Linked DNA regions of Homo sapiens: region 2 is linked to region 1. The links come from fine-mapping of genetic effects on gene expression. Tissue or cell type: lung. Region 1 holds a variant in brackets; the other region holds the start of a gene. All regions are shown on one strand. Distances are from middle to middle.

Region 1 (8,107 bases):
GCCACTTTGATGGTAAATCTTCTGAGTAACATCAGAAACCTAAATAAACAAACTGTTTTCTTGGTGTAGAGACTACAGAGATCTTGGGAATATGGCTTGATTTGAGTTTACTTTACTAAAAGCTGTGCAACATGAGCAAGTCTCTTAGGCTCTGTGGCTCAATCTAGTCACTTTTTAAAACGTAGGGTTCAAGCCACATCAGTGGTTCTCCAACCTGGCTGCATATCACAATCTTTTGGGGGAGGTTTGATGCTGTTCTCTTTGGCTCTTATTTTTTTTTTTTTTTTTTTTTTTTTTTTTTTACAGAGTCTCACTCTGTCACCCAGGCTGGAGTGCAGTGGCGTGATCTCAGCTCACTGCAACCTCCACCTCCCAGGTTCAAGCGATTCTCCTGCTTTAGCCTCCTGAGTAGCTAGGATTACAGGTGCACGCCACCACACCCAGGTAATTTTTTTTTTTTTCCAGACAGAGTCTCGCTCTGTCGCCCAGGTCGGAGTGCAGTGGTGCAATCTCAGCTCACTGCAACCTGCGCCTCCCAAGTAACTGGGACTACAGGTGCCCACTACCACACCTGGCTAAATTTTGTATTTTTAGTAGACATAGGGTTTCATCATGTTGGCCAGGCTGGTCTTGAATTCCCAAACTCAGGTGATCCACCAGCCTCAGCCACCCAAAGTGGTGGCATTACAGGAATGAGCCACTGTGCCCAGCTGGCTCCTATTTTATTATCACTATTTGAGACAGTCTTGCTCTGTCACCCAGGCTGGAGTGCAGCAGTGTGACCATGGCTCACTGTAGCCTCAACCACCCACCCCAGCCTCCCAAGCAGCCAGGACCACAGGGTGTAGCACTATATCCAGCTAAAACTTTTTGTTTGTTTTTAAGAGATGGGGTCTCACTATTTTGCTCAGGCTGGTCTCAAACTCCCGGGCTCAAGTGATCCTCCTGCCTCAGTCTGCCAAAGTGCTGGGATTACAGGCATGAGCTGCCTTGCCTGGCCCCTCCTTGGCTCTGCTTTGTACAAGTCTCTATCTTATCTTCAAGGCCTGGTCTCCAACAATCAGGTCATCACTTACACAATGATTCCATTTGCCTCACCAACGCCTGCTCACAGCTGCCTTCTCTCCTTCCTATCAGCCGCTCCACACTCACACTTGACCACACACTGTCTTCTGTTGCTCTGTCCTTGTATCTGGTTTGTCTTTTATCTCACTAGTTCTTAAGCTGCTTGTCGTTGGGACTATTTCTGTCTTTTTTCCCCCCTCATAAGCATTCTGACTTAGTAGACTGCCTTTATATATACATTAAGCAAACGTTAATGCTATTTAGCGTGCATTCTCCTCAGCAGACCAACACTGAACTGAAGGCTGTGACACACTCGCTCTGGTCACCCCTCCGGCTCTTGTATGGGACAGTGCCTCCCTCTGCCTCCTTCCCCAGGATGCCTACCAGCTGATGTGATATATTGTGCCAATGCACGAGCCACCTGGGTAAATAAACGCATGAGGGCACGTTCAACATTGATTCACTTGTATCAATGTTGGTTGACTCACAGGGCCCCCAACCCCCTACCTTTTCCCAGCTATGAAGTCAAGTTCACAAACAACAGTGCTGTTACAGGGAAGGGTGAGCTGGTGCTTTCTGACCTCTGCTCCAATGTAACTGAGACACCAGATCTCATCTGGGATCTAGGCAGTGGGATGGAGAGAGAGGAGTGCTTTGGACAGTAGGATGTGGTCTGAAAGGCAGAGACCAGGGGCAAATCAGGATGAACTCCCAAAGGCAATCCAAGCAAAGTCTTTGAGCAGGAAGGCACCAAGCGAGGCAGGAGACAGGCCCCTGAGGCCCCAGGACAGAGTGGACAAGTTGGGAATGCAGGACGGGAAGTGACAAGAGAAGGTTCTGGGCGGACTCCCCAGGGCAGCAACTTAGCAGCTGCCCACCTGCAGCCGGCTGTGTGGGTGGGACGGAGCCGCCAAGGCAGCCAAGCCCGGACACTGGAGGCAAACCTCTGACATCTTCGTTTTGCTTTTTTATAAATGTGCCATTCTACACAATTATACACTAGTGGACATAAAATTTCCCATTTTACATCTTATCCTTTATTCCTCTTTTCTTGCTCCCTCCTTTGACATATCTTTCAAAGCTGTTTTATTTACATCTTCTATATTCAAATACTTGGCCAAAAATCATGCTACTAACACACCAGTGTTTACATTTGAGCATTAAATCCCAGACGTCACCCACATGTATACTTACTTGTTAAAGCAACATTTCACTCATAAAATACATGCAATCACTGGTACTATAAACAATGCTCCATCTTGCAAGATGCCCCAAAATTATCATCTAACATAGTTGGTGATATTCCTACAGTGTCTTTGGTTTAACGCACTAGCTTGACTGTATTGTCATTTTCTTACTGTATTTTAATTCTGTGCAACACATCTGGGATAATCAATCCTAGACTTACCAGAAATGCTCAAGAAATGAAATGTTTTGTTGAAAGAAACTTTTTTTGTTGTTTTTTTAAATACATATTTGGTGTAGGTAGAAACATTATTTTTAAGTAAGAGTTAGCAGAAGACGTTTTCCCCAAAACTATAGAACGTGCTTCAACCAATTTCCCCTACTCTAATGACTAGATCGACGAGCAATGGGTGATCTAGAGAACCTTGGGACCATTAGTATGAGCATCAGTGAGCCCTCCACAGTGCTATGGACACAAAGAGTTTGTAGGGGATTGAGACACACGTCTAAAACGTTTCTTAAAACGAAACTCGCAGGCCAAGGCAGGTGGATCACTTGAGGTCAGGAGTTTGAGACCAGCCTGGCCAACATGAGGAAACCCCATTTCCAATCAAAATACAAAAATTAGCAGGGCATGGTGGCATGCACCTGTAATCCCAGCTACTCAGGAGCCTGAGGCAGGAGAATTGCTTGAACCTGGGAGGTGGAGGTTGCAGTGAGCCCAGATTGCACCACTGCACTCCAGCCTGGGTGACAGAGCAAGACTCCGTCTCAAAAAAAAAAAAAAAAAAACAAAAAAACAAAAAACGAAAAACTGGCTGTTTCTTATGATTTACCTCCTTTGGGTACAGTATGGTGAACAGAAATAGCTCACCGATATTTAGGTGGCTTACTATGTGTGCCAAGAGGTTTACACGCATGACCTCATTCTATCCTGAGAACAGCACAATGAGCCTCGTTCTATTATTACCTGCCCCCCACCCTTGTCCTGAA[C/T]GGAACATAGCTGTGTTTTTCTGCAAGCTGAACGCTCTCAGAACATTGAGTACACTGGGGGAAGTCTTGTATCCTGCAGCCTCCACCCACCCATCTCTGGGGAAATACGGAGGGCCTGCAGCTGGTGCCAGTGAGTCTGGAAAGAGAACGCTCTACCTTCAGCATTGGTTAGGTCACCTATTTGTCATTTCTGGGGTGGAAGACCATTTGAAGGCAAGTATTAGAGTTTGGGGGTGGCGTTTCCTTTTGACTGGCCACTGCAAATTAGACCCCAATTGGACCCATGCTCCAGATAAGAATGAAGGCAAAGTGAGAGCCTCCTCATCTTCATTTGTTCTGCTCAGAAAATAAAATAAAACGAGCTTTGGAGGAAAGTGAGTTCGCATACAAAAGACACTCACATAATGATATGAATGCACTTAAGTGTACTGAACTATCTCCTTAAAAATGGTTAATATGGTAAATTGTACGTTCTGTGTATTTTCGAAAAATATAAATTATTTGAAAAAAAATACCTTACTCAGCATAACACCAGAGTACTCTCCACAACATTTACCAAAGTCTGTGCAGATTCTTTCTCAATGGTGGGATTCTTCTGTTGATAACCACTTAAGATATTTCTCCTTTTCTTTTAAAATGTCTTCCAGACTCTCCCTCCAGATGCTGGATGACATGATGAGCCTGGCTGGGAGCCCACTCTCTGCTCCATCGGCCCACCCTCCCTTTGTGTTGTCTGTGGGTGGAGTAAGCTGTTGCCAACCGTGGCCAAATGAAAAGCCCGATGCCCTCCCTTCTCTCTAAAAGCTATTTATTGTTTTCCGAGGAGCCAGCCATCAAAGAGATCTCCTGTGCCCCACGCACTCCTCCCAACTCCCAGTTTTTGACTGAAAAAATGCTAACATCCGACCAGATACCAGAAAAACATCCTGAAAGACAATGCCTGGACTCTTATTTCCTAGGGAGCAGGACCAGGGCTTATTACCACATCAGCCTATCTTGTTTTTACTGCTGTGATGTTGCTGACAACATAGCTGAAATCTCCAACGTCTCCTTGTTCCTACCAGCATTGATTGGTTATATTTAAGCCTTCGTCCAGACCCACTTATTCTCCGTTTCATCTCATTTTCTTCCCTGGCTCAGCGCGGTGCCAAGAATTCTCTGGCTTTACACCCTGGAAGTGTGTTATGATGAGATTCAAGAAACAAAATGTGTGCAGAGAAGATGCAAATGGGTCACGTTGATCTCCCAGCAGGGGTTATTCAGATAATCCAGAATATTCTTACACAAAGTTTTTAATATTATCAACAAAATGCAAGAAAAAATTTAAAAAATTATTGCAAAAAAGCATGAGGTCCAAGAACACATCTAAAGACCCCAGTTGGAGTGAAATGGGTATGGGGCATGGGGAGGAAGGATGGAGGCAACTGACACAGGAAGAGACATTGTCTTTCTTCTGAAGGCAATGAGGACGGCTAACCCTCACAATGCGGTTTATATTACTCAGCATCTTCTTTCAGTCTCTCTCCCTCCTTCCTTCCCTCTCCCTGTCTCTCTCTCTCCCTTCTTTCATTCTTTCTGGGACAGAGTCTCACTCTGTTGCCCAAGCTGGAGCGCAGTGGCATGATCTCAGCTCACTGCAGCCTCCACCTCCCAGAGTCAAGCAATCCTCCCACCTCAGCCTCCCAGGTAGCTACGACTATAGGCACACGCCACCATGCTCTGCTAATTTGTGTATCTTTTTTCGTAGAGATGGGGTCTTGCCATGTTGCCCAAGCTGGTCTCAAACTCCTGAGCTCAAGTGATTCACCCGCCTCAGCCTCCCAAAGGGCTGGAATTACAGGCGTGAGCCACCATGCCCAGCCATGCATTTTCTTTGTATACATATTTAGAAAGGCTTTAAATCCTCGACTCATAATTGCCCTAAATTTTGCTCTAAATTTTTTTTAAATTTTATTATTATTATACTTTAAGTTTTAGAGTACATGTGCATGACGTGCAGGTTTGTTACATATGTATACATGTGCCATGCTGGTATGCTGCACCCATTAACTCGTCATTTAGCATTAGGTATATCTCCTAATGCTATCCCTCTCCCATCCCCCCACCCCACAACAGTCCCCGGTATGTGAAGTTCCCCTTCCTGTGTCCATGCATTCTCGTTGTTCAATTCCTACCTATGAGTGAGAACATGCAGTGTTTGGTTTTTTGTCCTTACGACAGTTTGCTGAGAATGATGGTTTCCAGCTTCATCCATGTCCCTACAAAGGACATGAACTCATCATTTTTCATGGCTGCATAGTATTCCATGGTGTATATGTGCCACATTTTCTTAATCCAGTCTATCGCTGTTGGATATTTAGGTTGGTTCCAAGTCTTTGCTATTGTGAATAGTGCCGCTATAAACATACGTGTGCATGTGTCTTTATAGCAGCATGATTTATAACTCTTTGGGTATATACCCAGTAATGGGATGGCTGGGTCAAATGGTATTTCTAGTTCTAGATCCCTGAGGAATCGCCACACTGACTTCCACAATGGTTGAACTAGTTTACAGTCCCACCAACAGTGTAAAAGTGTTCCTATTACTCCACATCCTCTCCAGCACTCTAAATTTCTTAATGTGGCCAACAAGGCCCTCCATGGTCTGCCTCACCTCCCATCATCATCTCTCCTCCTAACCTCCTTCCCACTCCCTCGCCTCTGACCGCCACATCTTACCCACCTGCCCTTCATGCTCCAAGTTTTATACTCTTTCCCACTTCTAGGTACTTCCTTCAAACACTTCTCTCTTTCTGGAATTTCCTTATATCTTGCTATGCCCTTCCTTACCCAGGGAACTTTCAAATATGAGCTTGAGTTTCCTCCTCCTTGACAGCATACTTCGGTTAGCAAGGCACTTGCTAACAGACTTTAATATTTTATTAAAATTGCTTATTTAATTGTCTTCCCTAAGATTAAAAGATCTATGGGATATAGAGATTTTATCTATTTTGCTCACCATCTTATCTCCATCATCTGCCTAGCAGAGACCACAAACATAGTAGATGCTTATGATAAAACAGTGGGAAGAAAGGAACAGGGCAGAGGAGTCAAGAAACAGAGTGTTCGACAAATGATAACTACTGTTGTCAGAAACAGTACCTTTGCTATTTCCGATCTCAAAGACAGGAGATGTTTATGGGATCTGGGATGGACTGAGTCTGGAGGTAAAACCTGAATCAATTTCAGCACCTGAAAATACAGTCATCAGCAAGTTTATATTAGCCTCGAAGGGATCAACTACACTGTTCAAGGGGGCCACTGCTCCTGAAAGACCCAGCAGGGGACAGGGGCATGAATAAATTTGTCCCTGTGTGGGTACATACACTTACAAATGTCTGCTCCCTTTTTAAAAAATGTGTTTGTTGGGCTGGGCGTGGTGGCTCATGCTTGTAATCCCAGCACTTAGCGAGGCCCAGGTGGTGGGTGGATCACTTGAGGTCAACAGTTCAACACAAGCCTGGCCAACATCGCAAAACCCCGTCTCTACTAAAAACACAAAAAATTAGCCAAGCTTGGTGGCGCACGCCTGTAACCTCAGCTACTTGAGAGGCTGAGGCATGAGAGTCACCTGAACCCAGGAGGCAGAGGTTGCAGTAAGCTGAGATCGTGCCACTGCACTCCAGGCTGGGCAAGAAAGAAGACTCTGTCTCCAAAAATAAATAAATAAAAATAAAATAAAATTTGTTTGTAAAATGAATTCTATACTGTTTAAAATACAACTTGAAACTGTGACCACTACGTAGCCTGAAAGGCTGAAAGGACCATAGGTATAAGTGGGCACATATTGTATCCACTCAGTTCTCATTTGGAATGTTTCTTCATTTACTGGTGATAGGAAGCCAGTTGTAGCACAGCTGAAACCTGCCATCTAGTGGACCTTCTCATGACAGGGTTTTGCAAACAAGCATCGCAGAGTAGACCAGAACTCCAAGAGCATCCTGCAGTTACGCTCTTCCAACAGAGCTCTCCTTTCCAAATAGCCCAGTATCAGGTTTTCACACTCTGGCATCCAAAGAGCTACCCTAAATCAATGTGGAATTTCAACCACTTTCCACGCAAAGCTATTCCACCAAGAAAAATCAATGCCTCATTCTGGGTATCTGCTTTTCATTTCTGTTTTGAATCTTTAGAAATCAGGTTAGTTTAGTCTACAGCTTTAAAAAAAAATTCGATGATTACTCTCTCTTGCCTGAAGCTACCTCCATCAGACCGAGAGTGTACTGTGATCTGAATTTATCTCAACACACATACCACAGAGCTCTGAAGTGGGGCAGCCGCTCTGCCTCAGGAACTAGGGCTCCCAAGTTCTGGGACTCATGCAGCCACTTGCCAGCTTGTCCCTCTGACCAGCCACATCTCCTCTATGACTCTCAGTTCCCTTATCTGTCAAAAAGTGGGGCTTCCTCGAAGACATACACATGGCCAATATGCCCAACATACTAATCATTAAAGAAATCCAAACCAAATCCACAATGAGATACCCTCTCACACCGGTCAGAACTGCTAGTAACCAAAGCCAAAAATAACAGATGCCGTCAAGGTCATGGAGGAAAGGGGAAGTTTACATACTGCAGGTGGGAATGTGGATTCATTCAGCCACTGTGCAAAGCAGTTTGGATATTTCTTGAAGAACTTAGAGCTACCATGTGGGCCAGCAATCCCATTACCAAGTATGTATCCAAAGGAATATAGATAGTTCTACCACAAAGGCACAAGAATTCCTATGTTCATGCAGCACTAGTCACAAGAGCAAAGACAAGGAATCAACCTAGATGCCCATCAATAGTAGACTGCATAAAGAAAATGTGGTACATACACACCA
Region 2 (8,102 bases), 200 kb before region 1:
CTTCTCAGTGAGATGGTGCCATAAGGAAACATAAATAAAAAAAAAGGGACCCGGATTGGGAACAAAGGCAATGACTCCATGGAGTTCCCCTTGAGAATTAAGGCCTGGAATACTTTTTTCATTTCTGATTGAATGCAACTTTGGTAAAGTTATCTGGAAGCCCTACCCAAGGGAGATGTCACTGCTAATCAAATTGCAAGGAATTTACAATTTGCTAATTCATCGTTTTCACCACACTTGTGTTAGAGTTTTATGTACCAAAGTTGTCTTTTTTAGATAAACTAGAGAAGAAATAGGGTCAGAAGCATCTATTGAACATTTTTTTTTTTTTTTGAGATGGAGTTTCGCTCTTGTTGCCCAGGCTGGAGTGCAATGGCGAGGTCTCTGCTTACCGCAACCTCCGCCTCCCAGGTTCAAGCGATTCTCCCGCCTCAGCCTCCCTAGTAGCTGGGATTACAGGCATGCACCACCATGCCCCCGCTAATTTTTGTATTTTTAGCAGAGACGGGGTTTCTCCAAGTTGGTCAAGCTGCTGTCGAACTCCGAACCTCAGGTGATACACCTACCACGGCACCATGCCTGACCAATCATTTATTTTATCTATAAGTGAAATTCGTTCACAGAGAAACTTTGGTCATTCCTGATGGCAAAACTTCATGCGGTAAAACATTTTAAAATATTAGAATGGGTTCTGTTATTTATATGGCTCAAAATCCAAAAAAAGTACAAAATTGTATTTAGTAACAAATTTCTCTTCTAATGCTGCCATTTAACTATCCAACTCCCATCTCAAGACACAACCAATGTTATCTGCTTCTGGTATATCTCTCCAGATATTTTATGGGTTTTTGTTTTGTTTTCTTTTGACACAGGGTCTTGCTCTGTCACCAGCTTGCAATGCAGTGGCACAATCATGGCTCACGATGGCCTCAACCTCTTGGACTCAAGCCATCCTCCCACCTCAGCCTCCAGAGTAGCTGGGACTATAAGCGCATGCCACCATGCGCAGCTAATTTTTGTATTTTTTATAGAGACAGGGTCTAAGTTGCCCTGGCAGGTCTCAAACTCTTGGGTTCAAATTATCCTCCCCCTTAGACTTCCCAAATAGCTGGGATTAAAGGTGCAAGCCACCATGCCTGGTGGCTTATGCTTAGTTTATGCTTATACAAACATATCTATATATGTATCTATACAAGTTTGTATCATTTCCTCCCTTTTAGTAGAAATTGTAGCATACTATTAGGTAATTGTTTTGTGTTAAAAAATGCACATGACATAGATTGAAGATCATCTCATAAAAGTACAAAGAGCTTTCTCAGTCTTTTTAAAAGCTTTCATAAGATTTCATTTTATGCCTATATCATGATTTATCAGTCCTTTACTAAAGAATATTTGTATTTGAAATATATCTTATTATAAACAATGCTGAAATAAACAAGGTTGTAGATACATACCATTTCTCCTGTGTGTTGTAAGATAAACTCTTTTTTTTTTTTTGAGACAGAGTCGCGGTGCGTTGCCCAGGCTGGAGTGCAGTGTCACAATCTCGGCTCACTGCAAACTTCGCTTTCCAGGTTCAAGGGATTCTCCTGCCTCAGCCTCCCAAGTAGCTGGGATTACAGGCGCCTGCTATCATGTCTGGCTAATTTTTGTATTTTTAGTTGAGACAGGGTTTCACCATGTTGGCCAGGCTGGTCTCCAACTCCTGACCTCAGGTGATCTGCCCGCCTCGGCCTCCCCAAGTGCTGGGATTGCAGGCATGAGTCACCGTGCCACCACGCAGGGCCAAGATAAACTCTTATACGTATAGTTGCAATATTGTTAGGTATCCTGACCTTCCCCCTAGGGAGGTCATTATAATTTACATTTACATTTTCATTGTGACTGCTAGTCTACACTTTTACCAACACTGTGATTATCAAACTTTCTAATCTTTGACAATCTGATAAGTGAAAAAATGGTTTCTCAATACAGTTGCAATTTGCATTTTCTTATGGAGGAAAAAAAATTGAGCCAACTTTTTTTTTTTTTTTTAGAATAAAGAGCCACAAAGTTATGTGAGTTATTATTTTATCCTTAATATTGCTCCTGGAGTCTGTAGCAGGTCAGCATCAGAGTTCAGAGATCAGGAACATGGCAACATGCCCAGAACCAAGATGAAAAGAAAAGCCAATAGGCCCCATTTCATGAATATTTGCCTTGAGGAGTCCCTGAAGATGTCCCTAGAAGTTAACTTCTGTTTTTATGTGGAGACAATTAGAAGCTAAGTTTCAGATTCCCCAATGCCTGCGTAAGTAGCTCTAATTACTTAGCAGAGCATTGTATGTTTCCCCCCTTCAAACCACCTGACACAAAAATGAAGTAAAACAGGTTCTATATTTATAGATATAACTAAGCCACACAATAGGATTGTGGGGTTTAGACCAAATCATCTAGGTCACATCAGGGTTATAAAGATTAAATGATATGTTTCACACAAGAACTATTCTGCTTAGGGATGGAGGCTTGTTGCTAATTAGCATAATTGCCTCGTGACTTGCGGAAACTATGTCAGCGTTTTGTTTTGTTTTTGTGTGCTTTTTCAGAGGGAGACTCATCTGGTGGTGTTAAATACTATATCTATTTAAAATTAATCACATGCCTTTCCTAACAACACGGATCATGCTAGTTGCATCTATCTTTACAACAGGGATTTCTGAAGCAAATGAGAGGTGTCATTATGTAATGGAATTAAAAGAGAAGATTAGGAGTTAGGCTGGCTGGGTTTGCACTTGCCCTCACTGGCTGTGTGACCTTGCGCTAGTCACTTGACCTTTCTGAGCTTCAATTCCTCATTTGAATAATGGAGATAATCTGACCTATATACCCCTGGGTTTTGTAGTCAGGAAATAATGGATCATTGTACATATGAAAAGTCTTTACAACTATCAATGGCAAGACATCTGTCAGTTATTCTAATATTCATGGTATAGAAAACTGTGAAATACAGAGTCCTTACGTCTATTCTCCAAAAAAGTTCACTTCTCTTTAAAAGCTTTTAGCAAACCACAATCCAGGTAATTAAAAAGGAAATATTAAAATTTTGTTCTCAGGTTGTCTGACATTTCACGGTTCAGCAATGTGACATCTCTCACAGGCAGAATAGCATCTTCGGACAAGTTTTCTATTAAAAATATGCTTTATAGAAGAAAATATTTTACGGACCTAGAAGACAGCTGTCGATGAAATTTGCTCAGTTTAGCAAACAGCAAGGACTGTGTTTGTGTTTAGAGAAAAGTAGGTCGAGCCTAGTTTATCTCCCTGGGGTTCTAGACTCCTTTCCACGTTGTATCTCAAGCTCTAATAGCTGGAAAGCTACTTTCTTTAACCTTTAATACACACTTGCTAGTAAACTTGCTAGAAGCATGAAGATAATACAGACTGCGAATCAGCCCTTCTAAGAGACAATCACGACTCCTTCCTTGCAAGCTTCCGCCCTGATAATTCTGCAACCTTCCCACCTTCTATACGCCCCGCGGTGCGAGGCCCCTCGGCCTGCAGGTGGCCAGAGGCAAGCAGGAGTCAGATCCCCCACCTACCGCGGCCCGGCCTGGGCCCTAGCGCTGGGTGCGGCGGAGCCCCGGGCTCCTGCGGGGACGAGCGTGGTCCCGGGACGCGCGGTGCAGCCAGGTGCGCCGGCGGCAGTGGCAGCCGCTGAGCGCCGCGTCGCACGTGGCAACAGGTGCAGCGCTGTCCCGGGCTGGCGCCGGGGGGCGTGGGGCGCGTCCGCACTTAGTCCGGGAGCGCGCGGAGCGTCGGGATTGGGACCCGAGAGCGGGAGCGGAGAGCGGGAGCGCCCGAGCGGAGTCCAGCGCCCCGAGGTACGGCCTCGCACGTCATTCAGGTTCCCCGAGGGCCGTCCCCTGGGACGGCGGCTGGCCTTGGTCTCCCGCAGCGAGCCGCTGGAGTGGAGCCTTCGGAAGGAGCCGCCCCGGGTTGGGGCGGGAGGCCCGAGTTCGGCTATTTACAAGTTTCCCGAACTCCCCGCCCTGCTCCACCCCCTGGCGGCCCCGGAGGCGGGGAGGCGGGGAGGCCGGGGCTCCGGGTCCCGCCTGGTAGCCGCCGCAGGCGTGGGGTGGTGCCGCGCCGCGCGCCCCCAGGTGCAGACGCCGCCCCCGAGACCTCCGGGGCGGGTTCTCGGCGACCCCGCCAGTGGTGCAAAGGGCGCCAGCCCTCCCCGCCTCTGCGTCTTTGCTCCCGGAGCGCTTGAAGGAGCTGCGGGTAAGTGCGCGCTGGAATCTGTTCCCGCTGCCCGGCGGCCGGGGTGGGGAGGGGACAGGCGAGCGCGCCGCCCAGGGTGACGGGACCGGTCCTCGGGGAGGGGAGGGGGCGTTCCAGGGGCCTGGGGGCCGAAGCTGAGGGCTAAAGGGGGCGGCAGCGCCGGCGGAGCGGAGGCGGGTCTCACGTGGGCCAGCGCAGAGCCTGCGGAAGGGACGGATGCGGATCTCGTCGCTGTCACCTTGAAAGTGACCGAGGGGCTTGACTGTGGACTCCTTACGCCGCCCACCCGGGCCCGGCGGTCCCAGCCTTCTCGCAGGGCCCCTTCTCAGCAGAAGCAAGCGGGGCCGAGAAAGCGGGTGGAATAGGGTTGCTGCAGGTCCCAAAGACCCCTCGTGGCGCCTCGCTACTTTCTGCAGCTTGTTTGCACTTTTTCACGCTCTAGAAAAATCTCATCTTAATTAAGGTGACCTTATTGACTACTCTATAGTGCTTAGTGGACTTAGGTGTTCACTGAGGAACGTTTTTGTTCTTTTTTGAAGACGTACTCCTTTCTACCAAGTTGTTTGTTGATTTTTGACTTGGAGTAATTTGGGACTAGGAAGGAAGAGGTTAATTCATTTAGCCTGCGTAGTTACACATACTCTGTTAAATACTGTTTGTTTGAAGTAGTCAGTGTTCTAAGAAAGGAAATCCAGTGTGTTTTGTTTGTTTCAATGAAACCAAAGTCTTAGGCAAAACGGTGCGTGGAAGCTTTCAAGTTTTGCCAGGTGCAGGTGATCGAAAGTCAATCATCACTAAATCACAGCGCTGGGGCTGGAGGGTGGGAGTAGGGGTGTTACCAGTGAATTTCAGGAGGAAGGGAGGCAATGCAGGAGGGAGGGGATTAAAAAAGAGAGTCATTGCTTCCTGGGAACCAGTGACCTCTTTAAGGAGGGTATATACAAGATAACAGTGCATGGACAACTTTAAAAGGAATTGCATAAACGGAATTGCAATTCTGTAGACAGTTTGCTTTTTCAGGGATGGTTAGGGCAGGAAATGATACACAACTTAAAATGGTGATGTCCTGTTAGTACAGTGCTTTACAGTGTAGAAAGTGCTGTTACAGATTTTTTTTTTTTCATAGGCAATATATTCCATTAGGAAAGCTATACAAAGAAAAGATTAGAACTACATGCTTATCCTTAAAACCAAAGCTAAAAAACCTTAGAAGTGGAATTTAGTTTAAAATAATATGTAGTTATTTATGTAACTTGCACCACGTTTTTTCACCTGTTCTTTTTAAAATCAGGTTTATGAAGAGAAAATAATTCTTGGTAAATCTGCTTGGTAGAAAATCATGCTTGGAACAAGACCTTTTAATTATGTCAATAAGTCAAGGTTACATTTTGGAGTATAATAGGATTATAAGATTCTAGATAATATCTTATATTTTTTGGAAACTAACCTGCAGTTATTACACTCAAGCATTTAAAAAGCCTGTTACTTAATAGCCCTGTTCTGTTAACCCTGTTTGTTTTGATTTCAAAAGTAATCCGTGCTTGCTGTATAAAAATAGGTAGATTGAGAAAAGTGAGTTAAGCAATTTCAGCAAAGATAATCACAGTTAATATTTAAGAAAATACTTGTTAATATATAGAAAAATTTTTTATAGTTATATAGTTTATCTAAATATACTATTGCGTGGAGGTTTTTTCCTGATTAATGTATCATGAAAAATTTTCCATGTCATGAAATCTTCAGAAATCTTAGTGGCTACTTAATATTACATTACATAGATGTATCAAACTGGTTTTCATTTATTTCCACTTACTAAATATACTTTTGCAACAAATACGTTTTTAAAACTTTATGTGCAGGGTTAATATCCTTAGTGCCCTTGAAATACAGTTGATGGTTGGAAGATCTCCTCATACATATTGACCATTTGCTTTCCAAAAAATGTTTAACCAAATTATGTTCCCACCAGCTCTCTGTGAGAATACTGGTGTTACCGTATTCTTGTCAACATGTAGAATCATCCTTAAAGGGAAAAAAAAAAAATTCTTCCCAGGTTTATAGGTGAACAGTGCTTTCTCTATATTTAAACTTCAATTTCTTTGATTACAGATGATTTGAACACCAAAGAAATCTAGTTGTTTTCCATTTTGAAATTTGATGTAGTGCCAGATTTTTCTCCTGGGATATTAGTATTTTTCCATTAATTCATAAGAGCCTTTTATGGATTGATAGTAAATCTTTGCCATTCATATTGCAGATACTTTTCCCATTTTATCTTTGCTTTATATATTTACAGTAGTTTTGACATACACAAATTTCTTTAATGTTGATAAATCTGTTGACTTTCTCAAAACAGAATTTTTAACACTTCTAAATCGTAGCTTCAGAACTATATGTGACTGTGGTAGAAGATTTAAAAAAAATTTTCCAGCCGGGTGCGGTGGCTCACGCCTCTAATCCCAGCACTTTGGGAAGCCAAGGCGGGCGGATCAGGAGGTCAGGGGTTCGAGACCAGCCTGGGCAACATGGTGAAACCCCGTCTCTACTAAAGATACAAAAAATTAGTCAATTGTGTTGGCATGGATCTGTAATCTCAGCTACTTGGGACGCTGAGGCAGGAGAAGCGCTTGAACCCGGGAGGTGGAGGTTGCAGTGAGCCGAGATCACTCCAGTGCACTCCAGCCTGGGCAACAGGGCAAAACTCCATCTTAAAAAAAAAAAATTCCCCAAATTCTAAATTAGAATCTTTTCAAATTCATTGCAAGAACTTCCATATCTTGGGTTAGAGACTGTTGCAAAACTAATTGCATTTGTTGATGAGAAGCCACTGGGCCTGGTATATACTATTAGGAACAACATCCTTTGAAATCAGAGCAGAAAGTTTTAAATCCCTAAGACTGAATGTTTTTCAGATCTGTTATTCTGTGATTATACAAAGTAGGCTCACACTCCATTTATTGTCAGTAATCTATTTGTAGTATCATTTTGCCAGATTCTTCTTTTTATAGTCATTATTGTGGTTTCATACGGACTTGTTGATGTCCAGACAAATGTACTGCATACGTAGTTAAAAAATTTCCTGGATTAATTTCCAATACTGCTACTCAGCAAAGTATTTATTTGGGGGGGCGGGGGAACACGTCTTCCTGATATCTCAAAGTTGGGTTCTTTCTCTGTGTTGTGAAAGCTTGAATATACCCTGAAAGTCCTCACTAAAGGAAGTGTGTTCTCCATGAGAGCCTGAGTCCCTTTTATTCCCCAAGCTTAGAGCGTAAGAGTAAGCGATAGGACCATATTTGAGCCATAAGGATGAAATTGGAGTTCAGGATCTGCGTGCTTAGGGGCACTTAAAAATGGCCTCAGACTTTCTCTGGAAGAAGGCAGGCCCCGGAGGGAGGTGACCACTTAGCAGCGGATACAGTGGTGACTGTGGCCTCCTGAGAAGGAGGATGAGCGATCCCACCCACAGGAAATGAAGGACTAGATGGGATGGTATGAACTCAGCTAGCTTGAAATCTGGCCCCGAAAAGCCTACTTTGACCAGGGAGACTTTATACCTGGTTTTGGATGGTCCAGTATAACCAGGAGTTGAATTTGACTTGTAATTTCTTCTAACTTTTTATTTTATTTTATTTTATTTTATTTTTTGAGACGGGATATTGCTGTGTCACCCAGGCTGGAATACAGTAGCATGATCATAGCTTACTGCAGCCTTCACGTCCCAGGCTCAAGCTATCCTCCCGCCTCAGCCTCCTGAGTATCTGGGACTACAGTCATGTGCCGCCATGCCTGGCTAATTTTTGTATTTTTTGTAGAGACAAGGTTTTGCCATGTTGCCCAGG

What was found. PIP is the estimated chance that this variant, and not a neighbour inherited with it, causes the effect.
Region 2: MTUS1 starts here. The variant in region 1 is fine-mapped to the expression of MTUS1 in lung (TOPMed, PIP above 0.99).

The regions. Positions count from the first base shown.
Region 1 is chr8:17,601,830-17,609,936 of GRCh38, reverse strand. All of the region lies in intron 2 of PDGFRL (platelet derived growth factor receptor like), which reads right to left. LOC107986919 (a long non-coding RNA gene) reads left to right here. Exons shown (of 2, transcript XR_001745819.2): 2 at 3,891-4,291. Among named protein-coding and RNA genes, the nearest start is that of PDGFRL, 29 kb to the right of the region's middle. The variant C/T (reference allele first, on the strand shown) is at 3,244.
Region 2 is chr8:17,797,219-17,805,320 of GRCh38, reverse strand. It overlaps MTUS1 (microtubule associated scaffold protein 1), which reads left to right and starts at 4,227. Exons shown (of 15, transcript NM_001363059.2): 1 at 4,227-4,260. It overlaps MTUS1-DT (MTUS1 divergent transcript), which reads right to left and starts at 3,979. Exons shown (of 3, transcript NR_186403.1): 1 at 3,579-3,979. RefSeq lists silencers at 3,624-3,813, 3,854-3,913, 3,994-4,113.